Regions from separate parts of the Homo sapiens genome. Here region 2 is linked to region 1. Evidence: fine-mapped expression QTL. A gene starts in region 1. The other region holds a variant in brackets. All regions are shown on one strand. Distances are from middle to middle.

Region 1 (5,388 bases):
TGTACCTGTAGTCCTAGCTACTCGGGAGGCTGAGGTGGGAGGATCCCTTGAGTCCAGGAGGTTGAGGCTGCAGTGAGCTATGATCATGCTACTGCCCTCCAGCTTGGGTAACAGAGGGAGACACTGTCTTAAAAAAATTAATTAATTAAAGTTTAAAAAGCAAGGTAAAAAATAGTGTGTACAGTTGATTACTTTTGTAGTACAGTAATTTTTAAAAATATATATAGAAGGTAGATTGATACACTGACATATGAATAATGTTCCCCCCTGAAAAACATAAGAAGCTTTTAACAATAAATATCTTTGTGAAGAGTAACTGAATTATTATTTTCGTGCCACTTGCAGATATTTGAGCTTTTAAAATTTTGTTACCCCCATGTTTGCTATTTTTTAAAAATTAACAATTCATTAAATCTTTTAAATAAAAACCAAATAGCATTTATTGAGGCTTTATAATGTGCAAGGGACTGTGCTAAGCACTTTACCTGTAATACCTCATTACATTTTCACGTTAACTTCTTATCTCCTTTTTACAAGTGAGGAGTTAGAGGCTCAGACAAGTGAAATCACTTGCTTGGGGACACAGAGCTAGAATGTGGCGGAGCTGCAATTTTAATGCACCTCTGTCTCATTTCAGAGCCTTAGCTCTCAACTGCCAGGCCGCACTCTTCTGCTTGCTCTTTATACCCTCATTGCTTAATGAGAGTACACTAGCAAACAACAGGAGTCTAATGAGATAATGTATGTGAAAATACTTTTCTAAGTATAGAGATGTTTGGGGAGGGCAAGCAAGGGTAGGGAATTTGTTTAAATTGGGCGGACCTGTCCACTGACCCCTAGACAGTCAGGATTTTTTTTTTTTTTTTTTACAAAACCAAGATCAACAACTTTCTTTTGTTCCTCCTTTAAAAATATTATAAAGTTATATTTACTTCCTTTTTCCCAATTATTGTTTATAAATTAAAATATGGAGAAATAAAAGCCATTTCATAATAGTCCTCACCCATAATTACTTTGTTTCAGATTTGAATGGCTATGTAACTATTACACACCTGCGTTTTACATAAACAGTAGCAACTAGACATTTGTTCAGTATCTTGCTTTTTCAGCCCTACAATATATCTTGGCCATCTTTTTATATAAACACTTACAAATCTGCTTTTCTCTTTTAAAGTAGCTGCATAATATCCTATTCTGTGAATACAGATAGGTAGGTAGGTAGGTTGGTAGATAGATAGATAGATGATAGATAATAGATATAGAGAGCTATGAAACTTTTAAAAATCACCTACTGAAGGACATTTAAGCTTCTTCCAATTGTTTGATTTCCTAATCAATGCTGTAATGAATACCCTTCCTAAGAAAGTTTAGAAGGATCTTTAGACTGAGTGTAATATTTGTCCACTGTAGTTGACGAGAGTGACCCCACAGGACGCTGTACTGAGGGGAGGAGTATGTTTCACTGCGTGGAGAAACAAAGAACTCTCTCCTAAGCATGACCAACACATTCAGAGATATTAGAATTGCCAACAGGTGGGATGACCTGAAAAAGAACTCCTTGCTTTGACAGTTTAGTAATAGAGCAAAGACTTGCCACGATTGCTCAACACTGGCTGGATCAGAAGAGGAATTTCCAGACTCAGTTACAAGCACGGCTGGTGGAGGGCTGTGAATCCCACCAGACAGTCTGGAGACAGCTAGGCAGGGAGATGAGCAGCAGAGCTCCAAATCAGGCAACAGCACGTGTGAAAGGAGCAGTGACCTGTGGGGAAACTCATAACTCACAGACCAAACCCCTTCCAGCAGAGGGCAGTGCCTCTGATACGACACAGGGCCCAGGCCAGCTGGAGCCAGAGCTGGGGACTTCGCTGGAGAGATGGCACCGGCCTGAGGTCAAGGAGAAATTGAACTAAACTCTCCTTTGAAGACTGTAAGTGACATTGGGGAATACTCAGGGAGGGACAGTGGGACCTCACACTACTATGATTCGCCTGTGTTCTAATGTCCAACAATTTAGGCTGAGTAATAAATCTCTTTATAGAGTTTGGCCATTTAGGGCTTGTAAGTAAGGGAATTTGGAGTCATTTTTGCTAGGCTGGCCACTGAGTCTCGCAGGTTTCTGGGTACATGCTTGAATTGAAAAGAAAGTGACACACCTAAAATACAGCCTAGACTCCTGGCCCTGGGGCTCTGTGGATCCGACACAAAGTTTACAAATAGAAAGCTAGCAAAGGGAAAGATAGTCGGAAGTAACAATTTTATCTAAAAATAGAAACTTAGAATCTAACACCAGAGTTACTACTTGCTTTTGAATTTCAAAGACTACATAGGATGGCCTTTAAAACAAAACTTCAGCATGTAAGAGCCAGCCAAGCAAATTGTTATACATAATCAACGATTAAAATAAATTAGTCTTTAGGCCTAAACCGTTTCCAATCAAATCTTTCTTGAATATTGGTTACCTTTTCTGCCGTGTAGTGGTTGGAATCAAATGAGAACATAGCTGAGCAGAGTACCATAAAGTCTACTTCTAATGCTGCTGTTTTCGAGCCTTGTGATTTTTTTTTAAGTGACTTTAGTATTCGCTGGTAAAGTCAAGGCGGATCTACCAGACGGTAAAAGTTCTGTGTGTTTGTCAGGCACGGCTAAGTAAAACGCACTGCATCTGAAAGTCTAAGGGTAGTTTGCATGCATCTCTCAGCAAAATAGCAAGTGGAAGAAATACCAGCAAGGAGAATAAACTTTCTGGGCTGTTTGATTTCCCCTGCAACTTCTAGTCCAGGGATGTTTGGCGTTCTCCCGGTCGCTAGATTATTAGCCCGCAGGTTCCGCACCGGCCAGGGAGCCGCTCAAGTCCTAGGGCCGGGCGGCTGGAGGTTGCAGGTCGGAGGGGCTTCTACGGGTTTGGGGGTGGGACGGTCCGCGGCAGCCGCGGGCGGGTAAGGACTGACGTCGCAGGTTTCCAGAGGCCCGTTCCCGAAGCCGGAGTCCCGACCCGAAACCGTCCCCGGCCGGCTCGCTCGCTCAGCAGGGCGCGGCTCCAGCGCCACCCGGCTCGCCCCGAAGAGGTGGGACTTTCCCCACCGGAAGTGATCCCGTCCAGTCTCGGGGAACTGGGGCACCTCAGCCAGTGTGTCAGGGAAACCCTTCCGGGTGTGTGCTTGGTGGGGGTGGGGGTGGGGGTGGGGGTGGGGGTGGGGGGTGGGTGAGAAAAAAAAGAGGTGGGTTCGCCTGGAGTCCCTGCGGCCGCCGCGGAAGGCCCCCGCTTCTTTCCCCGCGGCGAGCAGCAGCGCTGGGGCAGCGGAGAGACAGAGGAGCCAGCGGGTGGCCATGGCCTTGGCGTGACAGAGCCTCCCCGGCGGCCGGGCGGGTGCGGACGGCGGGGTAAGCGGCAGTAGCTTGATCCGGGTGGGAGTTGGGGGAGGCGGCGGCCGGCGCCGCAGGTTCGGGGCGGGGGTCAGCCGGGTAATGTGCGTCCTTCTCCCCTTCACAGGCCGGACGACCCCCGCGGGAGCCGGGGCCCAGAAACCCGCCCGGGCAGCGGTAACTGGAACGGAGCCCTCAGGCCTGAGCCGGCTGGGCTGCGCGAGCAGGAAGCGGGGTCCCTGGGCCCCTTTGTGTGAAGGGCGGGGGAGGAGTGCCGGGCAGCCCCGGGCTGCGGGCTCCTCCGACGTCCGCCTCGCCGCAGGGTCCCCTCGCCGCAGCCCCCACCCTTTCCCTCCCGGGGGCACGCGCCTCCTCGCCACCCTCGCCGGGCTTTTCCCAGGCTCGCCCTCCTCCCCACGCCCCCTGCTCGGGCTGCAGTTCCTATAGGAAGGGCATTACCATCCCTTCCCCACCCTCCCCGACTCTACGCTCTTTCCCCTCCCCCTCCTGTAACTTCCTCTTCTTCCCCGGTTGGGCCCTCTGCTCCTCTGCACTCTCCTCCCCAGTTCGCAGATTTCCGCCCACCTTCCGCCTCGTCTAGCCGCGCCACAGCTAGCGGGGTGATCTTTCCCCCCCTCTGGTAGGAGTTGGTGAAGGTGAGACTCATGAGGGAATACAAGGTAGTGGTGTTAGGGAGTGGAGGGGTTGGCAAATCTGCCCTTACTGTGCAGTTTGTCACTGGGACTTTCATTGAGAAATATGACCCCACCATTGAAGATTTCTACCGCAAAGAGATCGAAGTGGACTCTTCCCCCTCCGTGCTGGAAATTCTGGACACCGCAGGAACTGAGCAGTTTGCCTCCATGAGAGATCTCTACATCAAAAACGGCCAAGGTTTCATCCTGGTTTATAGCCTGGTTAATCAACAGTCTTTTCAGGTAACCAAACCAAGTCTTGTAATTTGTTAGAAGGGGGTGTGGTAATCCGACATCGACTTCTGGGTTGCTTGAACCGTGCATTAATGACTGTGCTTTGCTTTTGAAAGTTAGACATGACGCATTTTTGAGGTTACTCCTGCCATGGAAGACTATCGGGTTGTTTCTATAGAGCGTAGTAAAAAGTAACAAGCGTCAACAAATATTTTAAAGCTATTTTTAAGTGAAAGAAAAGTGAAAAAGAAATGTCAGTCTGTGTATATTTCGCCTGGAATATAACCTTCTGAAGTTGCTTGCTCAATTCAACAAGTATTGATTAACTTACACGACAAAACATCTAACAAATAATCTCGGGTAAATAGAGCACTTTGAAAAAATTATTTGGAGCCGATTATCTGTTGCACAGATAAGTCCTCTGTGTCTGTCCCACCCACACCTTCCCCTCCCACCCCCCAACACCCCCTCCCGCCGCCCTCCCCTTCTCTCTCAAGTTTCTCAACTAGATTCATAAATCTTAGTGTTGCAAGACGAAGAACTCAAGACCTGCCTTCTAGGCATTTTACTTAATTACTTGGGGCGTGTAGTAGGAAGAAAAGTTACTAATAGAAAAGACTAGTACCTAGAATTAATAACCAACAAAAATCAGGAATGACTCTTTTTCTGCAGTTGATCCAAATTGTTTCTGGTAACATTGCCTGTATTTACAGAAAATACGTGGGTCTGGGAACACTGAACAAGTGCAGATTTCTTACTCCGGCTGGGTGGCCAAACTGGATGTGGTCCAATCTCTTAGAAAATCTGTCCTGTCCTTCACTGGGAAACAGACTGAAGGTTTAACGTTATTTTAGGATATGCAATGTATGTTTCTATTTATCCCTTGAAAATGAATAACCTCATATTGACCCATTATATTGACCTCCATTGATTTAGGAAATGGATATATTTTTTCTGCATTTAAAGGTATGCACTTAATGTAGCTTACTTAAGAGACCTTAAGTGCTTTAGCCAATACAATGTGCTAATTCCACTTTCTTTAGTATTTTAAATTAAAGTACTATAGTGAACTTTCCCAGTAACCTGATAGAAC
Region 2 (5,388 bases), 27 kb after region 1:
GGCACTGAGGCCGAGGAGGCACCGAGAGCCAGCGAGGGCTGCCAGCACGCTGTCACCTCTCAATATCAATCAATGTACTTCTGAAAACCAATTTACTGTTCATCTTGATTTTCGAATTATTTGAAAAACTAAGAGTAATGGTAAGCACAAGACTTAGCCTTAGCATTCATGAAAATATAGTACAAAGCTATAGTAATTAAAACAGGTTGACACAACTGTAAGAATGAACAGACAGATCAGTGAAACACAAGGATCACCCCCCCAAAGATTTCTTGTTCATATAATGTAACACATTATAAGAAGGTATTAACATATGTGGGGAAGTATGAAATTATACTACAAATAGTGCTTGGATAATTAGATAACTATTGTTGACTAAAGAAAAAAATGAAGCTTTTAAATGAAGTTAGTCTTATTTAGCCTTATGGAGGACTATAGACCAAGGCCTAAATACTGTGCTCCTGCACAGTATTTCAGCCTATTGCTTATATATAGGTGGTAGGGGTTTGGTACATGCAAAATCACATTAAACTTGCTCAGAAGTTACATTCCAATCATATAACTGTTTGGGTATAAGAGTACATCTGGGGCCGGGCACAGTGGCTCACGCCTGTAATCCCAGCACTTTGGGAGGCTGAGGCAGGCAGATCATTTGAAGTCAGGAGTTCGAGACCAGCCTGGCCAACATGGTGAAACCCCATCTCTACTAAAAATACAAATAATTAGCCAGGTGTGGTGGTGTGCACATGTAGTCCCAGCTACTTGGGAGGCTGAGGCAGAAGAATGGTTTGAACCCAGGAGGCAGAGGTTGCAGTGAGCCGAGATCGCACCACTGCACTCCAGCCTGGGTGACAGAGCTAGACTCCATCTCAAAAAAAAAAAAATAAAGTACATATGGTTATCAATACAAAGGCATAATCACTAACCCAGTCAGATGTTATCTTCTGTGCTGAAAAGGCAAGGACTAGGATCATTCATCTTTTAAGGAATATACATCTCAGGCAAGAGAAGTGGGGGACCATGTGCTCTATCCTGTTTTGTCTTCAAAGCATCTTTCCAGAGAGGTGCACATTATCACAGAGTCAGGGTCTTTGTGAAATCATGCAAGCAAGCAAAAACAAGCAAACATGGCTTCTTTAGAGCTTCATCTCACAGCATGTATTAATACAGAATCCAGAAGGATCTAAAAAAGGGAATGTGAAAAACTAAACAAAAACAATAGAAAAAACCCAAAAAGACTGTTCGTCAGATCTGCTAATAATGAAAACCTTTTTAAGTTTAAAAGCAATGGATGGCATAACAAAAGATTTTTAGATTGTACTAGATTTTTAAAACTTGGAAGAATATTGTAACAAATATGATAAATGAGGGATTGATAGCTTTAATCTATCTTTTAAAACTCATACAAATTGAAAAGAAAAACTTAAAAATTCAAGAGAAAATTAGACAAAGAAAATATTTCATAGAAAAGATATATATGGCTACATACAAAAATTGTTCAAGCTTACTGGTAACAAAAATATGCAAATAATACAACAGTGAAATATTATTTCATTGTTGTGTACTTAACTTCTCTTATTTTGAAGAAACTCCACAAGATACTATTGTTTTATGTAGTTAGTTTCCTTATCCCTGCATATTTGTCATTTTCTTTGCTTATCAACCTTTCTTGGTATTCAAATGTTCTATCAAAAATCATATTCCTTCTGCCTGTAGTATACATCCTTTATCATTTCTTATATTGTATGTCTGCTGGTGGCAAAGTCCCTGACTGTTTGAAAATTGTATTTTATCCTCAAGATTCAAAGATATTTTCATAGATGTGGTACATATATGGAATACTATGCAGCCATAAAAAAGGAAGTCAAGTCCTTTGCAACAACATGAATGCAGCTGGAGGCCATTATCATAAGTGAATTGATACAGGAACAGAAAGCCAAATACCACATGTTCTCACTTGTAATGTAAATGTGGGGCAATAAACCCACACAAGAGCTAAATTGTGGTTATAATTTACCAGGAATGGTTATTCGCCTTCTCCCATCAACTAGCTGTGATAGGCAACAAAGAAACTTTCCTTACATTTTCCTGAGGATATGTATTTATTTCTGGTTCACCTTTACACTGAGAACATAACCCCTTAGGATACTGGATTTATGGTGGTAGGGACTCTTAATTAGTTTCCCCATCTTGGTAGAGCCCTGAGCTTTATGTTCTGTCCCCATATCTGGATAAATCACATAGACACAAAAGAGCAAAGTTCAAATTAGGCTGTTTTGGCAAATGTCCTTAGGGAAAAATTTCAGGGCTTGGCTTATTTCTTTGGGTTGCTGCCTTCATTTAGATCCATGCCTGGTAATTTCCATCTCATTAGCTTTTTGACACTTTTAACAAGATTCTCTTTCTCCACACATATCATATATACACTATATATGTATATATATATACACTGTACATAGCATAATATGCATATGCTTTATCCAGCAGTTTTAGCTGTTTTCTGCCTGCAGAAATCTGTCCAAATACCTAGACAGCCATACTATCTGAAACTAAAACATACATTTTATTATGAATAAATTAATAAAGATATTTATAAAAAGATAATCCTCATTATTTAACAGACATGGGGTAAAAAGAGCACTTATACACTACTGCTAAGACTGTACATTGAGTGTAAATCAGCTTAACCTTAAATAGAGAACACTTTAGTGGTATGTATCTGGAATCTTTTAAATGTTCATCAACTCGACTGAATAATTCCACTTCCAATAATATATAATAGTAACTAAGCAAAGATGCTCATAAACATGTATATTTGAGGATGTTTATTGAAATGTTATTTATAATAGGAAAAGAAAATCTTTATGGCCTATTGATAAAATGAAATACTATGCAGCCATTTATTAAAT[A/G]TATTTTATAGAATATACAATATGACATGGGGAAATGTTCTCAATAAAAGGTTAAGTGAAAATCAGAACACAAAATTGTATACAGCAGCAGAATCCTAATGTGTGTTTGTGTGTGTGTATGCATGGAAAAACATCACAATATTAATGGACACACACACACACACACACACACACACATCTCCCAGTATCTGTAGGGGATTGCTTTCAGTACCCCCGTGGATACCAAAATCTGTGATGGTCAAATCCCTGATATAAAATGGTATAGTATTTGCATATAACCTATACGTATCCTCCCATATAGTTTAAGTTGCCTCTAGATTACTTATCATACCTAACACAATGCAAACGCTATGTAAATAGTTGTTATACTATAGTTTTTATTTGTATTATTTTCTTGTTTTTTTATGGGAACAGTTTTGATTAGTGGTTGGTTGATTCTGCAGATGCAGGACCCATGGATATGGAACCCATGGATATGGAGGGCTGATTGTATATATATATGCATATATATACGTATATACATATATACGTATATATACATACATGTATGTGTATATATATATGGTTAAGTGAAAATGAGAACACAAAATTATATATAGCAGCATAATCCGTGGATATGGATTGCATATGTGTATATACAATCAGCCCTCTATAACCATGTATTCCATATTCATGGGTTCTGCATCTGTGGAATCAACCAACTGCTGATCAAAACTATTCATATATATATTCAGATATATATTCATATATATATCAATAAAATAATGAAAATAAAAAATATAGTATAACAACTATTTACATAGCATTTGTGTGTGTGTGTGTGTGTGTGTGTGTGTGTGTGTGTGTGTGTAGATGGTGGGGCTATGGCTAATTTTTATTTCCTTTGTAAATTTTACATACTCTTCAGGCTAGCATATATTGCTTTTAAAATCAGAAAACAGTCTGTTAATAAAAAGCAGCACATTAGGAAAAACTGTGAATATTTAACAGCAGTTCTTTAAATGGTTGATATTCTTAATATACAAATAACTCACATAAATCTAAACAAAGCCTTAAGATTCTAGATATAAATATCCTAATATTGCTATCAATAGTACTTTGAGTACTGTGGATCTAAATTCAATCGCTCAACCAATATTGAAGAAAACTCTTTCTGCATAGCTGAACAAATGGATTTTATTTTACGCAAGGGAAAACTACCCCTCTTCTTGGAGAGGCTGGAAAGCTATAGCTACACATTTTGACTCTATCCTTTATGTGAAATGCAAAGAGAAGCCCCTGGGCTGCCTGTGCATACACATATTTGCACACATGCATGCGCTCTCTCGCGCTCTCTCTCTCTCACACACACACACACACGCACACACACACACACACATTTTCTAGTTCTTGCCTTCTCCTTTATCCCCCGAAGGGTTTGTACCACAATAAATTTTTTCTGGGTGTTTTTAGGGGGGTTCTCACACATGGTCATGAATGAGTAGTGTCAGAATAAGTACATGGATTTTGTGTTTTCTTTCTCCCATTATTGTGCTCCAGCTTATATCCTCTAAGTGCTCTCATGTGATCTAAGCATTGCTATATTTTCTAGGCAGAGCTGACACTTGCGCTGTGTAATGCTGCATTTGGAAGGCATGGTACCACATCAACTGGATATCAGCTGCCTCTGCTGGCTTCTGTAATTCACAGTAGAAACTGCTGTTACTTCTATGGAGTAATAATAGTTTCCCTTAGTAGTAGCTTTTCTAAAATACCACCAAAATTAGTGCTGGGCATCACTATCTTGTGCCCAGAGCAACTGTTGACACCTTGGAGACTTGCAGCCATGGTCACCATGGACTGTTGTACAGATTGCACACTGCACAAGAGATGTCTCTCTGAGAGGACAAGGAGTTGTCAAATTCATCCCGTGTTCCCCTGTCATGCAGTATGCCTGTGGAGTTGAATCTGTCCTAGAGGAGAAGATGCATACCTATTTCTAATTCACCTGCTCAGAGAGTGCATTGTTCCCTCACCAAGATTTGGGGCTGCCTAGAGCAGGTGCCATTTTCTAATTTGTACAGATACAGTATAGACTAGCTGCAACTCTGCCTATAGATGTCCAAGTATATGATATTTGGGAGGATGTGGCAGAAAATGCCTCTCTTTTGGGGGCTACACTCAAATGTAAGCTCTGTCACTTTGTTTGCTGCTTCATCCCCAGCGTTTTTAGCACAGTATCTGGTACAGAGCAGGTGTTAGATAAATATATTTGTTGACTGAAAAAAATGAATGAATTAGTACAGTCCCAAAGCAGTCATGCATGTGCATAATGACAAAATATTTTTGTAAAACAGCTGTTTTTGTTTTTATTGACTACAACTTCTTACATACCCATAAGGCTCAGACATTGAATCTGTGGTGCTAAGTCTGGAGACAAACTCGAGTGACAGCCACTGTGCTCTACTCAGAAATGTCCCTCCCCTCTAGTTACTAAAGC

Which allele goes with the higher level. Positions count from the first base shown, and alleles are read on the strand shown. Sizes are in standard deviations (SD) of each study's normalised expression.
With allele G in place of A in region 2, the expression in lung of the gene that starts at base 2,793 in region 1 is lower (small effect, 0.32 SD a copy in GTEx).

The links.
Region 2: its variant is fine-mapped to the expression of RAP2C-AS1 in lung (GTEx, PIP 0.95).

What each region holds. Positions count from the first base shown.
Region 1 is chrX:132,215,912-132,221,299 of GRCh38, reverse strand. It overlaps RAP2C-AS1 (RAP2C antisense RNA 1), which reads right to left and starts at 2,793. Exons shown (of 3, transcript NR_110410.1): 1 at 2,463-2,793. It overlaps RAP2C (RAP2C, member of RAS oncogene family), which reads left to right and starts at 1,853. Exons shown (of 6, transcript NM_001271186.2): 1 at 1,853-1,930; 2 at 2,959-3,068; 3 at 3,288-3,384; 4 at 3,494-4,304. The coding sequence starts at 4,032. RefSeq lists enhancers at 1,482-1,531, 1,862-1,931 and silencers at 3,364-3,413, 3,424-3,863.
Region 2 is chrX:132,188,596-132,193,983 of GRCh38, reverse strand. No RefSeq gene overlaps it. Among named protein-coding and RNA genes, the nearest start is that of RAP2C-AS1, 27 kb to the left of the region's middle. The variant A/G (reference allele first, on the strand shown) is at 2,910.